Regions from separate parts of the Homo sapiens genome. Here regions 1, 2, 3 and 5 are each reported to be linked to region 4. The links are microRNA targets in miRTarBase. Many come from high-throughput screens and were not tested one by one. Region 4 holds a microRNA gene; each other region holds the end of a gene's coding sequence.
The links. Region 4 holds the annotated microRNA hsa-miR-208a-3p (AUAAGACGAGCAAAAAGCUUGU, at 2,275-2,296, shown strand). A microRNA usually pairs through its seed, bases 2 to 8, with sites in the 3' UTR of a target mRNA and lowers its output. Matches are read on the target gene's strand: a 7mer-m8 pairs with bases 2 to 8, a 7mer-A1 pairs with bases 2 to 7 and ends in A, and an 8mer does both.

Region 1: miRTarBase lists INIP as a target of hsa-miR-208a-3p. Seed matches in the 3' UTR shown: 7mer-A1 at 2,895-2,901.
Region 2: the mRNA of ASAP3 is a reported target of hsa-miR-208a-3p. Seed matches in the 3' UTR shown: 7mer-A1 at 1,109-1,115.
Region 3: miRTarBase lists ASAP1 as a target of hsa-miR-208a-3p. Seed matches in the 3' UTR shown: 7mer-A1 at 2,188-2,194.
Region 5: miRTarBase lists WWC2 as a target of hsa-miR-208a-3p. Seed matches in the 3' UTR shown: 7mer-A1 at 1,789-1,795 and 7mer-A1 at 2,964-2,970.

Annotation. Positions count from the first base shown.
Region 1 is chr9:112,684,073-112,688,072 of GRCh38, forward strand. INIP (INTS3 and NABP interacting protein) reads right to left here. Exons shown (of 5, transcript NM_021218.3): 5 at 1-3,561. The coding sequence ends at 3,466. Among named protein-coding and RNA genes, the nearest start is that of INIP, 32 kb to the right of the region's middle.
Region 2 is chr1:23,426,421-23,430,420 of GRCh38, reverse strand. ASAP3 (ArfGAP with SH3 domain, ankyrin repeat and PH domain 3) reads left to right here. Exons shown (of 25, transcript NM_017707.4): 25 at 491-1,858. The coding sequence ends at 565. LOC124903875 (a long non-coding RNA gene) reads right to left here. Exons shown (of 3, transcript XR_007065535.1): 3 at 1,438-2,709. Among named protein-coding and RNA genes, the nearest start is that of TCEA3, 3.7 kb to the right of the region's middle.
Region 3 is chr8:130,051,344-130,055,343 of GRCh38, forward strand. It overlaps ASAP1 (ArfGAP with SH3 domain, ankyrin repeat and PH domain 1), which reads right to left. Exons shown (of 30, transcript NM_018482.4): 30 at 761-3,462. The coding sequence ends at 3,388. Among named protein-coding and RNA genes, the nearest start is that of ASAP1-IT2, 31 kb to the right of the region's middle. RefSeq lists a silencer at 3,659-3,861.
Region 4 is chr14:23,386,409-23,390,897 of GRCh38, reverse strand. It overlaps MIR208A (microRNA 208a), which reads left to right and starts at 2,232; the gene lies at 2,232-2,302. MYH6 (myosin heavy chain 6) reads left to right here. Exons shown (of 39, transcript NM_002471.4): 26 at 452-841; 27 at 1,179-1,305; 28 at 1,387-1,505; 29 at 1,843-2,039; 30 at 2,560-2,743; 31 at 2,975-3,140; 32 at 3,245-3,369; 33 at 4,275-4,489. RefSeq lists enhancers at 747-1,350, 1,351-1,954, 4,004-4,489.
Region 5 is chr4:183,315,358-183,319,357 of GRCh38, forward strand. It overlaps WWC2 (WW and C2 domain containing 2), which reads left to right. Exons shown (of 23, transcript NM_024949.6): 23 at 306-4,000. The coding sequence ends at 372. It overlaps CLDN22 (claudin 22), which reads right to left. Exons shown (of 1, transcript NM_001111319.3): 1 at 2,743-4,000. Among named protein-coding and RNA genes, the nearest start is that of CLDN22, 2.9 kb to the right of the region's middle.

The DNA.
Region 1 (4,000 bases), not on the chromosome of region 4:
ATTCTTTCATTCCTTCAACATATTGAACACCTACTATATGCCAAATATATTTTATGTGGAATACAGTAGTGAACGAAGTAAAAGAGGAAGAAAGGAAAGGAGGAAGAGAAAGAAATAAACAAAAATTCTTGCTCTCTAAGACTTTACATACTAGTGGAACAGACAATAGACAAAATAAGTAAGCCAGATGCAGTGGCTCACACCTGTAATCTCAGCACTTTAGGAGGCCAAGGTGGGAGGATCGAGAGGACTGCTTGAGGCCAAGAGTTCAAGACCAGCCTGGGCAACATAGCAAGATGCTGTCTCTACAAAAATTAAAAAAAAAAAAAAATTAGCTGGGCATGGTGGCATGTGCCTGTAGTCTCAGCTACTTGGGAGGCTAAGGGTTGAGGATTGCTTGAGCCCAGGGATTCAAGGAGTCTTGCAGTGAGCTATGATTATACCACTGCACTCCAGCCTGGATGACAGAGCAGGACTGTCTCTTAAAAAACCAACACAATACAAAGTAAAATATAGGAACACACAGAAACAGAATATTCATGAGGCAAAACCACCTATTTCTATATGCAGTACACTCAGATGTTTTTGATTTTTTCGGAAAAAATGCTGGTCAATCCTGTTAAACCATTAAGTTGGCTTCTCAACTCAGTAATGGGTTGAGGCTTTTGCACTTTGAAAAACACTAGTCTAGACAATTTCTGACATGGGCAGAGCATGTGCTTGTTCTCACCTTATGGAGGGAGGAACATACAAAGATATTAACTGAGTTCCTCAAATTCACCCATGATCTGAGGGAAGCAATGCTGACCTCCACCTGAGGGCTTCCCAGTCCACTGCTGCCCTTTCCCTCACCCTCTGCAGTGCCTGCTCTTCTCCTCTCATTCTGAAACCTTGCTCTGCACGTGGAGCAGCTCTTCCTTCCCTTGTCAGGTAAAAATCACATGAATACTTCTAAGCCTAGCCAGACCGCACTGCGTTCCAGGATGCCTCTCTCAGGCCACTACTGCATTCTGGCTCGCTTGATTGATTGATTTAGAGACAGGGTCTCACTCTGTTGCCAAGTTGTGCAATCATGGCCCACTGCAGCCTCAACCTCCCAGGCTCAAGCAATCCTCCCACCTCAGCCTCCCGAGTGGCTGGGACTCTATGCATGCACCAGCACACCTAGCCAATCTTTTTTTTTTTTTTTTAATTTTTTAGTAGAGACAGGGGTCTCACTATGTTGCCTAGGCTGTGGCTTGCTTTATAACTATTGGTGTACCAGAATAGGATCCTCTGCACGGTGACCTCCTAAAAGAGCAGGTACCAGTCACCTTTGTGTCCCCCAAAGCACAGTACTTTATCTGTAGGTATTAATAAATACATAGGAAATTGAATTGAATTTGTAACTCAAAGCAGAGGGGTGGAGAGAAGTGCTTCCTAGCCAGGAATACAGGATTTAGGCCATATCTATTTAAAAGAAGACTAACAAACAGACTAGAAACGATAACACTGGTAAAAAGATCTCTTTACCTGAGCTACAAAAGTCATACATTAGGTAGAGGCTTCAATAGTGTAGAAAATATACTAATGTGTTATCTCCTTAGAGACAGATTTAGAACCATGTCAGTTATGTTGCAGATGACAGAGAACAGAAACCTAGTGAAATCAACTCAAGACAATGAGGGCTACCATAAGGAGGCCCAAGGAGTAGTTGGATGGACCTGAGGAAGGACAGGAGCCAGAGGCCCCCTGAGGAGCTCTGCGCCGCAGAAGTAAGGCTATCCTCGCTGCAATGGTGACCATTACAATGGGGACAGTTGCCACCTCATCAAAATGAAGGAAATCAGTTCAAATTCTAAAAAAAACCTACATGGCACAGCCAATTCTAGAATTGTCCACTCTTGCTTCACTTGGTTTGAGTAGGATGGGGCTGTGTGTTTGAAAACATCTAAGGAAGAAAGGGGGGAACAAACTCTCTGAAAAGAAAGTAGAACTTTCACTAAATATTGACCCAAACTGGAATTTTCAGTTTTACGCTACCACCAGAGAGGATGGGACTCAAGGCCAAGATAAGGTCAGTTACAAAAAGTTATATAAAATACTGTATCTGTGATACAGTGTAAAATATCATTTCAATCCTATTAAAAGTTAAAAAAAATGTAGATTTTAGCTAAATGACCTCTAAGTTTCAGGGATCTACAAACCCATGCGTGTATAAATATATCACGAAAATCTGTACAAGATATTTCATAGAATTCTCTATCTCATGGTTTTCAGACTTTATTTTGAATCAGATTCTAATTCTGTAGGACTAGGGTAGGGTAGTGGGACTGCATACTTAAATAAGCACCCCAGATACTGCTAAAGATGGGTCATGTTGAGAGACTTTCTTAACCTAATCCCTTCCTACTTAATTAAAAAGGAGCTCGACTTGCATAAGTTTTCTTTTTCTTTTTTTCTTTGAGACAAAGACTCACTGTCACCCAGGCTGGAGTGCAGTGACACCGTCTCAGCTCACTGCAACCCCTGCCTCCCAGGTTCAAGCGATTCTCCTGCCTCAGCCTCCTGAGTAGCTGGGATTACAGGCGTGTGCCACCACACATGGCTAATTTTTTATACTTTTAGTAGAGACAGGGTTTCACCATGTTGGCCAGGCTGGTCTCAAACTCCTGATCTCAAGTGATCTGCCCGCCTTGGCCTCCCAAAGTGCTGGGATTACAGGCATGAGGCACCGTGCCCAGCCAAAAAGTTTTCAGTTAGAACAAAAATGGAAAACAGAACCACACAAACTCATCATTTATGTGGTAACACTAAATAAGAGGATGTACAAATTAAAAACCTACCACATTCCCTATTATTTTTAATTGCATCTAGTCACAACATTTATAAGAGCATATGTTTATAAAAGATGGTTAAGACTGGTTAGTAATTTATTCTTGAGGTTTGTTTTAAAGTGAAAAAGGGGGAAGTAGTTATAAGTCCAGAAAGAATATTTCAGGATGATACATGTTGACTATAAACGCAAAAGGTATACTGATAGCAATCCTATAAACAGCAAATATGGATGCAATTGATTTAAGCCTATTAGTTCATTTTTTAAAAGCAGCCTTGTTTCTTTAAAGTTAAGTACTATAAATGATTCTTGAAAATCTACTGTGGACATGATATATTCAGTCAAACTTGCTAGGAGTTGGGGAATGACTTCGTGACCATCCAGTTCACAGTCTGATTGAGAGTTAAACAGCATTACAAAAAAGTTACAGTCACGGTACATAATCAATTCCTTGGACGATACAGCTTCCACAGCTCTCATCATCCTGGTTATTCTTCTTTCAGCTTTCACTTACACATTCCTTTCTTTCAGACAAACAAAAAATATCAAAGTTCACCAAAATTCTTAAAGTCACAGTTCATGTAGCACTGAATGATAGTAGCTTTGGCATTTGATATTACAAAGTCACTTTTCCATCGCAAATGTTTTCTTCATTCTGGGTCAAGGCGAGGTAAAACAGGAAGAATAAGGTTCCCAAATGCAGAGTCTTGAGTGATGAAGTATCCAGATGAATGTGCATGAGCATGCTGGGAAAGATTAAAAACAAAAAGGCAATTAAGCTATTAAATAGAGTCACAATTCTTCGACCAAGGCATTAAAATTACTCTTTCTGAATGCTTGAGACCAAATTTATTTGTTTATTCATTTATTTTTCATTGTTATTGCTGAGATGGAATTTATTTTAAAATCAGTTCTTGGCTGGGCGCGGTGGCTCACACTGGTAATCCCAGCACTTTGGGAGGCTGAGGTGGGCGAATCACGAGGTCAGGAGATCGAGACCATCCTGGCTAACGTGGTGAAACCCCGTCTCTACTAAAAATACAAAAAAGTTAGCCAGGCGTGGTGGCGGGTGCCTGTAGTCCCAGCTACTCAGGAGGCTGAGGCAGGAGAATGGCATGAACCTGGGAGGTGGAGCTTGCAGTGAGCAGAGCTCGCACCACTGCACTCCAGCCTGGGCGACAGAGC
Region 2 (4,000 bases), not on the chromosome of region 4:
CAATGGCATATATTAGTTGAACCTAGGAGTGGGCACAGATCAGAGCCAGTTGTGTTGGGAAAGAAGCCTCTTCTGTCCCTTGTTCCTCTGGGAATTCCTCAGAATGGCATTGGTTGTGTTGGGAGTCAGGATGGCAGGGGCAAAAGCTGGTTCTGTCTGGGGAATCGTCATCTTTAGTCCACCAGAGTTAGTCAGCAGACACAAATCTATGTCCATATTCTGGTTCCACTATTGCCCTGAAAACCAAGTATCCATCAGATGGCATTTAATTGATGCCTGTGATTGTGGTGTGTATGATAGCAAGAGCTTGGGCTTTAGAGTAAGGAGACTTTGGATAAGTGGCTTCACTTCCTCAAGCCTCAGTTTCTTTGTCTGTAAAATGAGAATAATTTAATTTATCTACAATAGGACAGATGTGAAACTGAGTGAGATGAACACCTGGTATGTTACAGGTGCTTTGAAAATGTCAGTTTCATCCTTCTTTCTGCAGGTTGGCATCACTGAAGGAGATGGCTCAAGGACTGGGAGTCTCCCAGCAAGTTCTGTGCAACTTTTGCAAGACTAGCTCCTTGCTGGCCCCCACATGCCCCATGCTAGGCCCCAATGTTCAGAGCTGGGACTTGAGCTCACAAAACTGGGGAGCTGAGACATTTGTTCTCTTGGATCTCACTCTCTCTGTCCCTTGTGCCTCTGTAGCTGGCCTTCTTCCTGCCACAGGCCATGCCTCTACCAAGGACACATGGCCTTTCCCTGTTAGGACTGATGGCGGTTCTTTCCTATCTCATTACCCGCTAGGGGCCTGGGAGCCCTGTGGCTGGATCTGAGTGCTCCTGAGCTGGCTTCAGCTGCAGAACTCTCAGTCCCTCATCAGATCGAGACTCTATTTCCCCCGTCAGTCTGGGGGCTTCACAAGGGCAGGAGAGCCCTCCATCACTGACTTCCAGATCAGGGACCCTGCCAAGTAGGGACTGTCTTCTCAGCCAGCCATTTATTAGTCTAATATTCCTTCACTAAATTCCAACTCTATGTCTGGACCTGTGTTAGGCACTTCAGATACCACACGAGTAAGACAAGGGCCCTGCAGGGGTGGTCCTTTGGTGGAAAGCTGGTCTTAAGGGTTGGGCTTGGGAATAGGCAGGGTCAGATTCCAGGGCATGGCTCTGGACTCAGCTGGTTTATACCTATATGACCATTACAATTGTCTACAGATCACATCCATTCTGGCTGGTCAACATGCATGCTGTACTGGCTGTTAAATAAAAATATTCTGAATGTCACTCCTTTTGAGGGACAGCACAGCCTTCCCTAGGCATTCTCCTATATTCCCCAGCCAAATTGTAGAGTCAGATGCACCCACATTTGCCTGTGTCCTTGATTTAGCAGGAAGGAAAGGAATAGTCAGGGTTGATGGATGCCCACTTCTCTTCTCTTTCTCTTGGTCAACTCAGGAGCCTTTTAGTCTGAGGGAATGGAGAGGCAAAGAAAGAAGGGAGAGTAATAGAATTGGGAGGGCAGAGACTTAAGGGTTCTGCTTCCCAGCCCTAGAAATTCTATCATTGCTCAGCCCCAATGAGAAAGCAGATACACCTAAGCCATCATCAACCACTAACATCTCAACTTGCCAGTTGCTGGGTGCTGGGCCCTGGCAGGAATGGGCCAAGCCAAGCAGGGGAGACTAGAGAGCACCAATGGCCAACACAGCTGCCTGGCTGGGGAGGCTGTGCTGTTTCCCCTGGAGACCTGACTGGTCTGTGGTTCCCACAGGAACAGGGTTGTCTTTTGAGCCCCCAGTGTCTGGTTTCATTCATCTCAGACTTGTTATTTCACTCATCTCTAATAAAGGATTGGGGGGTCAGTTTCCAGTGGTTTCATTTATGTGATCTAAAGAGCAACAGGGAGGGGAAAGGAATCTTGGGGCTTGAAATTCTTTCTCTGGACCTGGCAAGGGAGATGGCCTGATGTGGAATAGTGGTTTGCAACCACAGTGTTTTGCCCCGGGGAACTTCTGATAAAGCAGAAAACAGTTTTGACTGTTCCCAACTGGAGGATGCTAGTGGCATTTAGTGGACAAAGGTCAGGGATGCTACTAAACATCCTACGGTGCATAGGTCAACCCTCCCTAGCAATGCATTATCCAGTCCAAAATGTTAATAGTGCCAAGGTTGAGAAACCCTGGAAAGAGCACTGGACTAGGAGTCTGGAGACCTGAAATTCTAGCTCTCCCATGGTCCTCTGCCACTGTCTCTGTTGACTGCCCCTGAGACAAGGATTTGGGAGCAAGTAGCTTATCTGTGAAATGATCCCAGGAAGCATAATGAGGGAATAGAGAAATGAAACAGAAAGTCAAAGATAAAGAGCTGTGCGTGTTGGTGAGAACCTATACTCCAGCTACTCGGGTGGGAGAATTGCTTGAGCCCAGGAGTTCAAGGCTGCAGTGAGCCATGATGGCGCCACTGCACTCCAGCCTGAACAACAGAGCGAGACTCTGTCTCTAACTCTTGTTGGGGACCTGTGAGAAGGAGTATTGACTAGAACATGCCTTCAGGTTGTCCCATCGAGAGTGAAGAAATGATGTTTTCCACCAACTCTGGTTTCTTGCTGGTTGGGGGTGTCCTTTCTGAGGGCATCAATTTCCTACCACCCCAAAGCTCCAAATAGAGAAATGTGGGGAGCTGTCCAAGGTGTGTCCAGGAATTATCTTCCAGTGACCTGTAGGGTGGACAGGTAGGCAGAGGGGATATGATGGTATCAACAGGGTCCAACCCTGAGAGAATCATCACCCTCTTTAGGCCTCGGTCTTCCCATCTATACAATAAAGAGGTTGGACTCCATGTTTTCTTAGGGGCCTTCATACCCTGACATTCTAGGAGTCTTAACTTTTTTTTGATGTCGCGCATCTCAGGGTGGTGACTGGGTGGAAGTTTGAGAAAAATCTCTCTCTCTCTCTTTTTTTTTTTTTTTTGATGGCTCTGTCTCCCATACTGGAGTACAGTGGCACAATCAGAGCTCACTGTAACCTTGAACTCCTGGGCTCAGGCAAGCCTCCTGCCTCAGCCTTCCGAGTAGCTGGGACTATAGGCCCACGCCACCATGCCCAGCTTTTTAAAATATTTTGTAGAGACGAGGTCTCTCTCTGTTGCCCAGGCTAGTCTTGAACTCCTGGCTTCAAGCAATCCTCCTGCTTTGGCCTCCCAAAGTGCTAGGATTACAGGCATGAGCCACTGCTCCTGGCCTTTTTTTTAATAAGGCAATCCTAAGTAGCCTCAGGCTGCTGAGGTTGAGTCTCTTCAACCCAGAAGGGCTTGGCTGGGATTGGCCAAAAGGCCTCCCAGAGAATCCCAAACCATTAGAGTCTAACTTCCCAAATGTGACCGGCAGGCACTGCATGCTCAGGTCCCACCCACTGCCTCTCCCCACACTCCTCACCTCTGTGCTGCAGCCACGCCAATTTTTCAGTTCCTCCAACACTGTCAGGCAGGCCAGGCACCCTCCCATCCCTAAGCTTTGCACATTTGGAACTCCAAGAGGGGAGGACTGTTTTGTTCCTCTCTGGATGTCCAGAACAAGAACTACCTGGCACATATTAGGTGCTCCATAAATATATGTTGAATGCCTCTTCCTTTCTTCCGTGAACACTCTTCCTCCTCCCCTCAACGGCCACTGTGTACTTCAGCCCAAAGTTTAAACTTCGTTTCTTCAGAGAAGTTGACACCCTAAATAGTGCAGGTCCCCTCAAATGTGTCCTTAAGCTATCCTCCACTGCTTCCTGCCCTTCACCCCAGCTATGATAAATGCATTAATTGACTATGTCTGTTTTTGTTTAAGGTTTCTCTTGCCCATAGACTGAGTCTCAAGCTTTCTGGGACTGGGTCTGTCTTGTTCATTGCTTGGACACTCAATACGTATTTGTTGAATGGATGAAAAAAACCCACTCTGTCCTACCTTGATCCCCGTCACATAGCAATTAGAAGATAGGTGTCCACACCAAGCTGCCTCTGCG
Region 3 (4,000 bases), not on the chromosome of region 4:
CTGACCTCAGGTGATCCACCCGCCTCAGGCTCCCAAAGTGCTGGGAACACAGGCGTGAGCCACCGTGCCCAGCCATGTCTACCAACTTCCATGAAAGATGACAGAAGGAATGCTGAGACCAGCACTTCGGGATCCTCCCTGCCGCAGTCTCGGCCTGCTTTCCGCCACTGTGGTTCTCCATAAAGGAGAGTGTCTTCCAGGCAGTGGGAATTGCAAGGATGGCCTTGGAGCCAGAACCACCTGTGTGCACTCCCACCTTAGTGATTTACAAGCCACATGTCTCCTGTGTGTGAATGAATGCCTCTGAGCCTCATTTGTCAGCTCTGTAAAGCTGAGGGGCTCACGCTTCTCCTGGGCTTGCTAAGGATTCAGGGGTTAATGCAGGCAGAGTGCCTGGGCCAGGTCTGCTCCACTGCGTGGCAGCACTAGTTGTGACAGCTACGTGACAGAAGTGCTGTCCACACGACAACATGTAAGCCTCGTGCCCCTCCACCCTCTTCTTGCCCTGTTCACATCAACGGGCGCACAAGTGGACGTGGTGGAGGTGGAATGCGGAAGGTGGAGGACAGAAAGGGGCCGAAGGCCCACAGTTTGTAAGCCGGGGCAAGTGCCACATATTTTTATGTATCCAGAGTGATCTCTGACAAGGGTTGGAGTGACCTGTGTCATCTATATACCCGAAAGCACAGCCAGAGGAAGCCTTGATTCTCTCCTGTCAGCAGGGTAGTGAACAACTCACAAAATGGCCTGATTTCAGAAGTTTGGGATCAACTGAGAATATGTTTATTTAAAAGCAATTTTAAATATTAAAAAAAGTAGAAATTAACACATACAGTACTGAAAAACTGTCACATTAAACACATGTGAAATGACAAGTGTACTGATGTTTGATGGTAACATCCAGATGAGAATTCGGCATTTAACTAGTGGCACTACAGGATTCCTATACAACATGTTGAAGTTCTAGGCAATAAAAAAATAAATAGCAATTGCTGTTCAACAGTAAAATAAGACACACACTATTTGCAGAACATAACTTTCCCCTCTGGGGGAAAAAGAACTAATTTGCTATTTTTTTTTCATAAGGTTCCATATCTTCAAAATACTATATAATGTACAAAATTGCAGATAGTGGCTTACTGAGTTTAAGATCAAGATCAGACTTAAACTCAACAAGATCACCAAAGGTATTTCTACTGAGTTTTCCTATGTCCCACAGTAAGCTGGGTTAGAGAGAACTCAAATTCCTGATGGAAAACAAAACCGAACAAAAAAACTAGAAAAAAAAGGTGTTAAAAATGCTGTGTAAGTTGCTGCAAAAGGGGAAAAAGAATAGACACTAACTCCATGTAATTTTAGACATGCAGCTTTTGTGTTTTTTTTTTGTTTTTGTTTTTTTTTTTTTTTTGAAAAAAACCAGTTTATTTTGAGATCAGTGAAAAGAGTCTAGGCCACAGAAAAGAACAGCTCTTTAATGCAAGTTAAAATGTGTAAATGAATGACCGGGACACTGAGCAACCTCAGATGCAGACTTCCATCCGGACACTGGTGTGGCTTCAGTACCGAGGCTGCTAAAGCTGCCAGTCACAACCCAGCATGTCAACTGGTTCCTCATGCTCTGTTTGGTGTGGAAATTCACATGTGCCCTGACACTGAGGAAGCAATTGCTTAAAATCACTTTCCAATAACAGCTGATAAAATATTTTGCAGGTTTGTCATGCAAGGTTTATTTATTAGGTGGCTATTCAAAGTTTGTATAGCAACCACTTAAGCAGAACTAAATTAATATTCACTGAGCACTGTAACGATGGAAGAGGGCTTTTCCTAAGGGTTGGGTTGGGAGTTGTGCTTCTGTGAAATTAACATCTCTCACTCATTGCCAAGATTCTCTGCTTAAAAATATTAGTTTTCTGTGCTGTTGCCAAAATAGCAATTTAAGCAAATGTAGTGCCAGAATGACACATGAGCCTCGGACTCAGGGAACAGTTCCACTGACTGTGGAGTACAACTATTGCATTCTTTTCCAAAATTCAGACTGATGTAAAAGACTGAAATACAATGTTCTTAAGGATCTGATAAACATGGCTGGGATGAAAAGAAAACTGAGAGGGAAGAGTGCTTTTCACAGTGCAATTCATAGCAGCGTTCAAAAACTTGGTTATGAATTGACTTGAAGGTGGACAGAGCTTAAGACTGGAAAAATTATCTATAATTGGGGTTTAACAAAGAGCATGGGAAAAGAAACACTTGGTTTCAGCACCTGGATTCTACATACAGTAGGGAAACTGTGTGAAGGGTTGACTTTTAAATTCATCTTGAATAATCTTTTAAAAGTTTAAATTTGTCCAAGAACAAAACTAAGAAAATAATAAAAAATGGATGCAATGGATGCTTCAACACATCTGAGAGATGTGCATTCATAACACAATATGTCAATCCATACTCTTGAGAAAGCCAGTGATTAGAAACAAATATTGTTGCAACCTTATAATTTCTGCTTTAATGGCAATCAAGTTTAAAAAATGTACAATTCCACTTATCCATACTATTCCTTTATAAAAGGCAGATTTCAGGTAAGCTTCTAAATGCATGCGTAATGTAGAGGCTAATATTTTCTGGCAGTCCTTGGTTCCTGAAATTTGAACTTCATATGTGTTTTAAACTTTTGTCAAAATAGTCATGAAAGATATGTTATTTTTGCATAATGAGGTAATATATCAGGGGCGGGCACTCATAAGACAGTATAAATCCACTTGTCTAAACTTGCATGAGGCTGTGTGCATTGTAAAATGCCATAAAGAGTTTTGGGTCAGTGAATATTTTGCTGAAGGAATAACACTTACATTTAACTGAGCACTTTTCTGTAATAAATACCAAAGTAGGTTTTTGTAGCTGTAAACTGTGTACACAGATAACTACAGGCTGGTCTGTCATGGAGCTAAAAGTTTCACCTGGAAAACAGAACCCACCTCTTTGCTAATGTTGCATTTTCAGTAACACAATTGAGAATACTGCATTGTTAGGAACAGAGTCAATTCTATGCCTTTCAACGGTTGCTGGAGACCACTTCTATTTGCAAAGCCAGCAGTTCCTATACTCCTATTTTTGTTTGTTTGCTTGTAGAACAGCATAGAGAGATGTAAGTGCTAGATGCCAAGGATGGCTTTGGCAAACCAGTAAGGCGCGCCGGGTCCGAGGCTACCCTCATACTGGTGAAGGCAGAAAACCACAGGATATTTACAACACACATTATATCCCCCTCCTGAGGTGGCCCTTCCATGAGTTTCTTACTCTGTAACAGCAGCTATATACACACTGTGCCCAGGGTTACATGAAGGCAGCAGTCTTGCATGAAGGATGTGGACAATCTTAAGGTTCTGCGTTTTGCTAGTCAGACAGGATATGAACAAAGGACACTGGAAAGACCCCCTTCCTTTCAGGCTGTCCTTCGATGTGGCCAATCTGCAGGGAGAAAAGAGAGTGGTCAGGATGGAGGCAGCAGGCAGTGGCCCCACGACAAACCCAGTGGGTAAGAGCCCAGCCTAGTCTGCCCACAGACCTGGCGGTGGAATCCCAGGCTTACCCTTCTTCCCACCCTTTAGTGAACTACAGAGAGCTTAACGGTCATAAACTACATAAGGAAAGAGCAAACGACAGAACTTCCAATATGCTCAGCATTCTACATGGATCTTGCTGTACCCACACAGCAACCCCCTGAGGTGGATATTTCTTATACAGTTTACAATCTTCATTTTACAGATGAAGGGACAGTGGCCCAGAGAGGTGACATGCTCTCCCACAGGCGTGGGGCTCTAGAGTCCTTGCTCTGAACCAGGGCGCCTGGCTGCCTTTACAGCTGGGTGACCTCACACAAACCTTGCTAAGCCTTTTCTCTGTTAAGTGGGGCTAAAGAAAATCCCTTCTCTCCAGGCTTGTGTGATACATTTAAAAAAGAAAAAAAAAAAAAAAAGCAAATGAAAAGGCTGCTATGGCACCTGGC
Region 4 (4,489 bases):
CATGTTGTCACAAATATTTGTAAAATACAAGCACTCATTTTCCCGTCTTATGAATAGCGCAACAGAGCCTAGTGAATCTGGGGACTCTGAACTTCTTGATCTCACAGGATACCAGGATCCCCCTTCAACCACAGGTTCTCAGGATTTGGGGCTGCAGATGCTCACACTGGGTCTGAGATGCCCTTGGGAGCTTCAGCCAAATTCCTATTGATGGCCTATGCATTATAGGATGTTTAGTAGCATCCCTGGCCCCTACCCTCTAGATGCCAGTAGCAAGCCCCACCAAGACATGACAATCAGACATTGCCAACTGTTCCCTGGGGCACAAAATTGCCCCTAGTTGAGAACCACTGCTTGAGAGGAACCTAAGTTCCTGGTAGCTTTTCAGAGCCGGGGGGATTCCAGTGGAGGGGTCCAGGCGGTGGGTCTGAGCCCTTTGTGTCTGACCCAGGCACGCATCGAGGAGCTGGAGGAGGAGCTGGAGGCCGAGCGCACCGCCAGGGCTAAGGTGGAGAAGCTGCGCTCAGACCTGTCTCGGGAGCTGGAGGAGATCAGCGAGCGGCTGGAAGAGGCCGGCGGGGCCACGTCCGTGCAGATCGAGATGAACAAGAAGCGCGAGGCCGAGTTCCAGAAGATGCGGCGGGACCTGGAGGAGGCCACGCTGCAGCACGAGGCCACTGCCGCGGCCCTGCGCAAGAAGCACGCCGACAGCGTGGCCGAGCTGGGCGAGCAGATCGACAACCTGCAGCGGGTGAAGCAGAAGCTGGAGAAGGAGAAGAGCGAGTTCAAGCTGGAGCTGGATGACGTCACCTCCAACATGGAGCAGATCATCAAGGCCAAGGCAGGCTCTGCTCGGCCTCCCCTCGCCCTCTCCCCTGCACAGCGGAGCCTCCCCCATGCCTTCTCTCTCTGTCTGCCATCTCCCTTGTCATTCTCATTCTCTTCATCACCCTTTGGTCTCTCTTCCTGTCTCCCCTGCCCCTCTCTGGCTCTCCTCACCCTCTCTATCTCTTCATGTTCCTCCTTTCTTTAATTCAAGTCTCTCTTCAGACTGCGCCCTCCCACACCTTCTGTGTCCCCCTCCTGCCCTCTGGCATTCCCCATCTCTGACCCTCTCTTCCTTCCTCTGGTCGACTCAGCCCCTCCCACACTCACCCTTCCTGTCTTGCTTCCTGAAGGCAAACCTGGAGAAAGTGTCTCGGACGCTGGAGGACCAGGCCAATGAGTACCGCGTGAAGCTAGAAGAGGCCCAACGCTCCCTCAATGATTTCACCACCCAGCGAGCCAAGCTGCAGACCGAGAATGGTGGGTGCCCCTAACCAACCCCCTGCCTAGGGCAGGACATGACTTGTGAAATGGCCCACAAGCCCCTCATTTCACCTCCAGGAGAGTTGGCCCGGCAGCTAGAGGAAAAGGAGGCGCTAATCTCGCAGCTGACCCGGGGGAAGCTCTCTTATACCCAGCAAATGGAGGACCTCAAAAGGCAGCTGGAGGAGGAGGGCAAGGTGAGGCCCAGTGGGGAGGGTGGGCAGGCTTGATGGCAGCCCTGGGGCAATTCATCTCAGTGCCAGAAATGGAGCCTGGAGCTGGAAAGAGTCCTCTGCAAGGGAAAGACCCTCCAGTCTAGGTTCTGCCCTGCAGCTAAGCGTCATTTAATGCCTCTTTTCTTATTCGTAAGGGGATGGGGTGAGCAGACTGGGAAACTCCTCAAACAGTGAGGTGCCACATCAGCCCACATGGTGAATAAGGCTGGGCTTGGTTGAAGTACTACATAAGAAGAGAATCTAGAGAATGGGGCACAGGGAGTCCCTCCCACCTCCTGGTGCCCCCCCCCCTCCCCAGGCGAAGAACGCCCTGGCCCATGCACTGCAGTCGGCCCGGCATGACTGCGACCTGCTGCGGGAGCAGTACGAGGAGGAGACAGAGGCCAAGGCCGAGCTGCAGCGCGTCCTGTCCAAGGCCAACTCGGAGGTGGCCCAGTGGAGGACCAAGTATGAGACGGACGCCATTCAGCGGACTGAGGAGCTCGAAGAGGCCAAGTGAGCTCCAGATACCCCCTTAACCTGACTCTCAGAGAGGAAGGGGCGAGAGGACCTGGGGTGGGGACAGGCAAAGTGGTCATGAGACGGAAGTGGAAGAGACAGGAGGAACTCGGAGGGCAACAGAAGTGCTTGGAAGAAAGCCTGAACTCTTTGCTCTGTGAACTCTGGCTGGCCCTGACCCACTTCCTGTGACGGGCGAGCTTTTGGCCCGGGTTATACCTGATGCTCACGTATAAGACGAGCAAAAAGCTTGTTGGTCAGAGGAGCTACCGTCGATCAGCCTGTGTGGGGGGTGAGGGCAGGGGGCACTGACACCCAGATGCCACTGCAGGTAGGGAGGACGCCTGGGCAGCCCGTGCTGGCGGACTCTGTTCCAGGCATGAGCAGGCTCAGCTCCTGCTAGGCTGGACTTACGGTGTCTCAAGGAGATATAGGGAGGGGGTGGAAGGAGGTCCACCCAAGGCTCCAGTGTTGCCCAGTAGAGTCACACACACACCCTCCACCCTCACCTGGGCAGAAAGAAGCTGGCCCAGCGGCTGCAGGATGCCGAGGAGGCCGTGGAGGCTGTTAATGCCAAGTGCTCCTCACTGGAGAAGACCAAGCACCGGCTACAGAATGAGATAGAGGACTTGATGGTGGACGTAGAGCGCTCCAATGCTGCTGCTGCAGCCCTGGACAAGAAGCAGAGAAACTTTGACAAGGTGGACCATGGGCGGGGGCCGCAGCCAGCATGCAGGGCAAGGGGGCATGAGGGGTTCAGTGAGAGGCCAAAGGCAACCTCCTTGGAGGTGGAGGAGGAGGGCTAAGCCCAGGCTCGGGACCAGGGACAGATCTTGGACATGCGGCTGAGGCTGGGGGCTGGGGCACTGGGAAGCAGGAGGGCTGGGGAGCTAAGGCTGGGGGGCTGAAGAGTGAGCCTTGTCCCCGGGCAGATCCTGGCCGAGTGGAAGCAGAAGTATGAGGAGTCGCAGTCTGAGCTGGAGTCCTCACAGAAGGAGGCTCGCTCCCTCAGCACAGAGCTCTTCAAGCTCAAGAACGCCTACGAGGAGTCCCTGGAGCACCTAGAGACCTTCAAGCGGGAGAACAAGAACCTTCAGGGTGTGCTGGGGGTCCAAGAGGCCAGAGATGAGTTGGTGGGAGGGAGGGCCATGCAGGGGCAGGGGGAACATAGGCTTTGAGCTTTCTGGCCCTCTGGTCCCCAGAGGAAATCTCGGACCTTACTGAGCAGCTAGGAGAAGGAGGAAAGAATGTGCATGAGCTGGAGAAGGTCCGCAAACAGCTGGAGGTGGAGAAGCTGGAGCTGCAGTCAGCCCTGGAGGAGGCAGAGGTGAGGGCCGAGAACTCCCTGCACCCCATCCCTGTTCTGCCGCTGTCTCCCACTTCTCCCTCACCTGGGGGTGACCCTGACCCCAGGACAAAATCTATTCATTCCATATTCTTTGTTCAACATTATCTACCCACTATTCACTACCCATGACTGCCTCCAAAGCCAAGGTCTGCACAAAGGAAAATGTCAGTCTGATTAGAGGCCAAAGGTTTTGTTTCCCACCAGGTTTTAAAAGTTGGAATCTGGCCATAATAATAACCACTTAGACAGTGGGTAGGAGTGTGGGGTTCCAGAGTCAAACAGGCCTGAGTTGGAACACAGCTTGAGGACTTTCACTGCAGCGTTGGGCAAAATCTTTAATCTCTCTCTGCCTCAGTTTTCTCATCTGTAAAATGGAATTAACTGTACATACCTCATATGATTTTACACATGATTATTATAAAGATTAAATGAGGTAACACATTTAAGCACTTAATATATATTAGCTATTGTTACTCTTCATTTCTAAGCACCTGGGAATAGCCCTGAGTTTTCTGGGCTTCTAACTTTTCTCAGGAAAGGGTGAGGGACCTGGAAAACAAGATAAAATTTTGTATTTGTGGTTATAAAAATTCCTCCATTTTCTATAATACTTTAGACAGGTCAGGAATTTATGCAGTGTTAGTGCTGGAGGGTCTGGCAATTGTGAGGTCCAAACCCTTTTCTTGACAGGGGAAGCCCAGAGAGTCCAGCACTTTCTCCCCAATAGCACCGTGGTGGGCATGGGGTGCAGATCCCACCTCCCCATCTCTTCTCAGCTCTTCTTCTCTGGGCGATAGTCCTGGCTGACACCGTGTATCTTCTCATCCTCCCTCTCAACCCTGCCCTGTGCCCTGTCTGCCCGCCCTCGCCCCACCCCTTCCCAGGCCTCCCTGGAGCACGAGGAGGGCAAGATCCTCCGGGCCCAGCTAGAGTTCAACCAGATCAAGGCAGAGATCGAGCGGAAGCTGGCAGAGAAGGACGAGGAGATGGAACAGGCCAAGCGCAACCACCAGCGGGTGGTGGACTCGCTGCAGACCTCCCTGGATGCAGAGACACGCAGCCGCAACGAGGTCCTGAGGGTGAAGAAGAAGATGGAAGG
Region 5 (4,000 bases), not on the chromosome of region 4:
ACCCATCCTAGACCAAACCCCTACTAGTTTAAAAACTGTCTTCTGTTGGAAGTTCCCTGAAGGGAACTTACGGGCTTGGTCTGTAGGTGACTTCCGTGATCCAGAGCTGCTGTTCTCCTTGATACCCCCCCTTTAAGCAGGCAGAGGCTCTCCTGATTTTAAATGGAGTTCTGCGTAAGGAAAAGAGCTTCTACCTGTGCTTGCAGAGACATCACTGCCACTGCAGGTCTTGGGGACTGTTTTAATGGTCCCAGAGTATTTTTAGCATCATATATAAGTCAATTTATTTCTCACCCCAACTCTAGGGAGAAGATTGCCTACTTCACCAGAGCAAAGATAAGCATCCCATCCCTGCCAGCTGATGATGTGTGATTACATGACTTAAGAAATTATTTTTTCATCTGTTCACTTTCTTAGGGAGGGTAAAAGACTGAAGATTTGTGTTTTTGTTTTGGTGTTTGGTTTTTTTTGGTAACGTAACTGTCAACTCTTGAAGAACTTTTATTTCACATCAGATTTTCAACACATTAATTTGTAAAGTACCTTGAGTGTAATTTTTATATGCTTAAAAAAGAAAAAATCATATAAGAAAGATGGGATAACCTGGTACACAAATGTTGCCCAGTATGTGCGCATTGCCAGTGGACTTCATTTTGTAAAAATGGAATAGAGGCAGTACCCCACATGTGTACTGTTGAGCCGGCTGTTGAGAAACAACTTGGTTCAGCCGGTGGTTTTGCTTCTCCTTTGTGTTCCTGTGAGTAGGCTGTGCCGATGGCAGCAGCGCCACGTGGTATCTGTGCGCTGGCGAGGAGAGGAGCGCTTTCCATTTGGAGGCAGTGTGAGCACACGCTGGAGTGCAGCGTTCCAAAGTCCGCCCGAAATGGATGCTGCGTCCACGGCCATCACCTGTGCGGGAACACCTGGTTTCCTTAAGACAATTTCCTTTTTGTCCTTTTATATTTTTCTAAAGAAAACTAAGATATAAACTACCAAGTGCTCTTAAGAATAAAAATAAGAATAAGAATACAAAGGAGCACTACTCTTGGCTACACGAAAGATCTTGGGATTCATGACACTGAGGGCAGGGAGAAGAAAGAACACCAGCCACGCAGAGATACAAATAAGCTCATCAAATGAGCAGCTGGTTTGTCTCACTCAGCCTGAATTTGCATTAAGTGTTCAAAAGTGAGTTTCTGGCTTGCACTAGTGTTTTGCCCTAAATCTAAGGATGGTGCCTAGTGGTGGCCCTGTGTTCTGAGGACAGAGAGAGCTGGAGGGGTGGAGGGAAATGCATCGGCACTCATTTGGTGTAACCAAGAAGAGGGGGAAAGATGTCTTGATAGAATCAAAGTTGCCAAAAACAAAGAAGAGTTTATCAAGCAGATTTCTAACATTTAGTAGAAACTACTTCATAGCTCTCATTTTTAGGGGGTTCTATCTATAATTTATGGTAAATAGTTGGGAGGCAAAGGGAAGAATGTGTGTGGGGGGATTATTAATTTGAAGTATAAGCTAAATTGTTTATTAAAAAGCCTATTTTGGATGAACAAGTTTAGAGAGATAAACTGACTAATGTGTCCTCCAGTTTAGAATTTCACCTTACCCGACCCAGGCACTTCTTAAAAACACAGATCCTCAGTGCAGCTCTGCCAGCATCAAGGCTTTTAAAATATGTAGTATTTAGGCCATTTAAACCATACTTATTACTCAATAACCCAAGAAACAATTTTGGGTTAGCCATCTAATATAGCAAATAAAATAGATTTTTTAAAGAAATCCAAAATTGTCTTAAAGGAATGGACCCCTTGAAGAAAAAAAAAAAAAGTTTTGTTCCTCAGTTAGAATGCTCACTAGCTCACTAGCAAGAATTTTTATTTTCTTGAAAGCAATTATATATATTTTGGAAAGTTCATGTTATTGGAATTGAAGTTCAAATTAAGCAACTTCTGAGCCTAGAACTTTAATTACTTTTTCCTAAATGTCCCAACACTTACATACAAATTTCTTTGAAGACATAACTGGACATGGCAGACACTGCTTTGAACAAAAACCAGCCTAGTGAATTGACTGAGTACAGTCCTTTAAGGCTGCCCAGTTCATTCTATTAGATGACTAAGGAAAACTAGAAAAAGAATACAGTTCACCCTTGTCAAGGTCAAATGTGAAAGACAGAAGTTTATTTAATGTAGAGGTAAATGAAGGTGAGCTGTTTTCAGCATCTTAGTTTGACCATGAAAATGTCTATAGAATTATGTGTAGTTGTTCCGTACGATTTTATTTTCTTCATTTATTTATTTACAGTCTTATTTATGTTCTGTTTAATATATAGTTTGATTCTGGCCATTTTAAATATTTGACACAGAAGAGACTATATTGGAATATTTACAGCTTTATAAGTCTTTCATCAGATTAGCTGTTGACTTTTTGTAATACAAAAAGTTTCAGACAAGTATTAAAGAATAAAATCTGTCTCAGGCTGGTAGTTAGCAGTTGTGACCAAGATGCTTTTGGTTGTTGTATTTCACAAAATTTCCTCATTTCTAACATGAGAGATGAACTTATTTTAATATAATCCTTTTTCTACACTTTAAAAGTCAGCAATAGTGTTATGTATTTATAGGCAGCTTTTAATAATCTTGTCATATTTGTACTAACCCAAATGATTCACAGTGACAAAACATTTTAATAACTTGATCACAAAACCATATGGACAAATATGAATTTTAATATTATAAATACTATTTTTAAAAGGTAGAATTTATTCGCACAGGGTAAAAAGAATGTAATATTTAGTTCTCAAGTTTGAATTATCAGTATATTATTACAATTTTGTATATCAGAATCTTAAGTGTTACAGGTACAAAAAGAATATTGCTAGCCAAATGAACAAAGTTTAGCTAAATCTCTGTAGCATGCAAATCAAATAAATTAAAATTTTTTGCTATTGCTTTATCTATATTGTCTTAAATATCAAAAGCTCAGGACTGAACTTAATATTTAATCAGGTTAAATTCTGAACATGTTTCTGTTTTAATTTGTCTTGTTTGTAAACGTATGCAAATACATCACATAGATTAACTGGTTTCTGCACTTTCCATGTGTTTGTGGGTGGAAAAAAATTCAGTGGTTTTTTTTAAAAAAAAAAGCAAAAACAAAGCTACATATTGCCTAATACTCTATTTCAGTGTCGTTTATTGTTCAGTTTATTTCCCTGATTGGCACAAACACAAGAGTTTCCTTGAACCATGTACCAAGCAAATACAAAATATTTCATGAAGAAATCCCCAGGCTGGCAGTTTGTGATGAATAGTTCTTGTTGGAACTATATGTATTGCTGATAAAAAAGGACGAAGTATTTTCATTGAGCAAATAAAATGAAGGGCTCCAGAATATGTGCTCTGTGGTCGCTGCGCCTGGGCTGGCAGTGTGCTCCACAGAGAGGCAGCCGTCCCAGGAGGTTATCTACCCACACACCCCAGTCCTGCCCTGCCGTGCCCCCCACAGGCTGCTCAGTGCCTGGGAAGCCAGAAACGCTGCCCGTGAAATACAGAACACAGGATGCAGAAGCACGTTTGTGTGGCAGAGTCTACTTGAATCATCCAAAACCCAAGATCGCCCTCCTGCCTCTGACAGTATAGAAGGCGTGACTGAATGTGGCTGCCTTTTGAAAAAGGTTCCATAGAGACACTGAGGTCTCTGATTCAGAAGGAGATGATGTGTCTACACCTTTCACCTCTGAAGCTTCTAAAGAGCTAGTAATTATTTTATATAATAAGACGTCATGCATTTTAAATAAATATGCAACAAGACCTCAGGCTTATTATACTAGGTTATCTTAAACACCTGAAATAAGTAAATGATTTGCCAAATGATTCCGCTCCATATGAATAATACCTTCAAAGATACATAGAGATTAATGTTTTATTTACCACTTCTGTGCAATCGCTATTTTAAAATTGAGAAAACTCATCCACAGTAATGGGTGTCATTACTATTC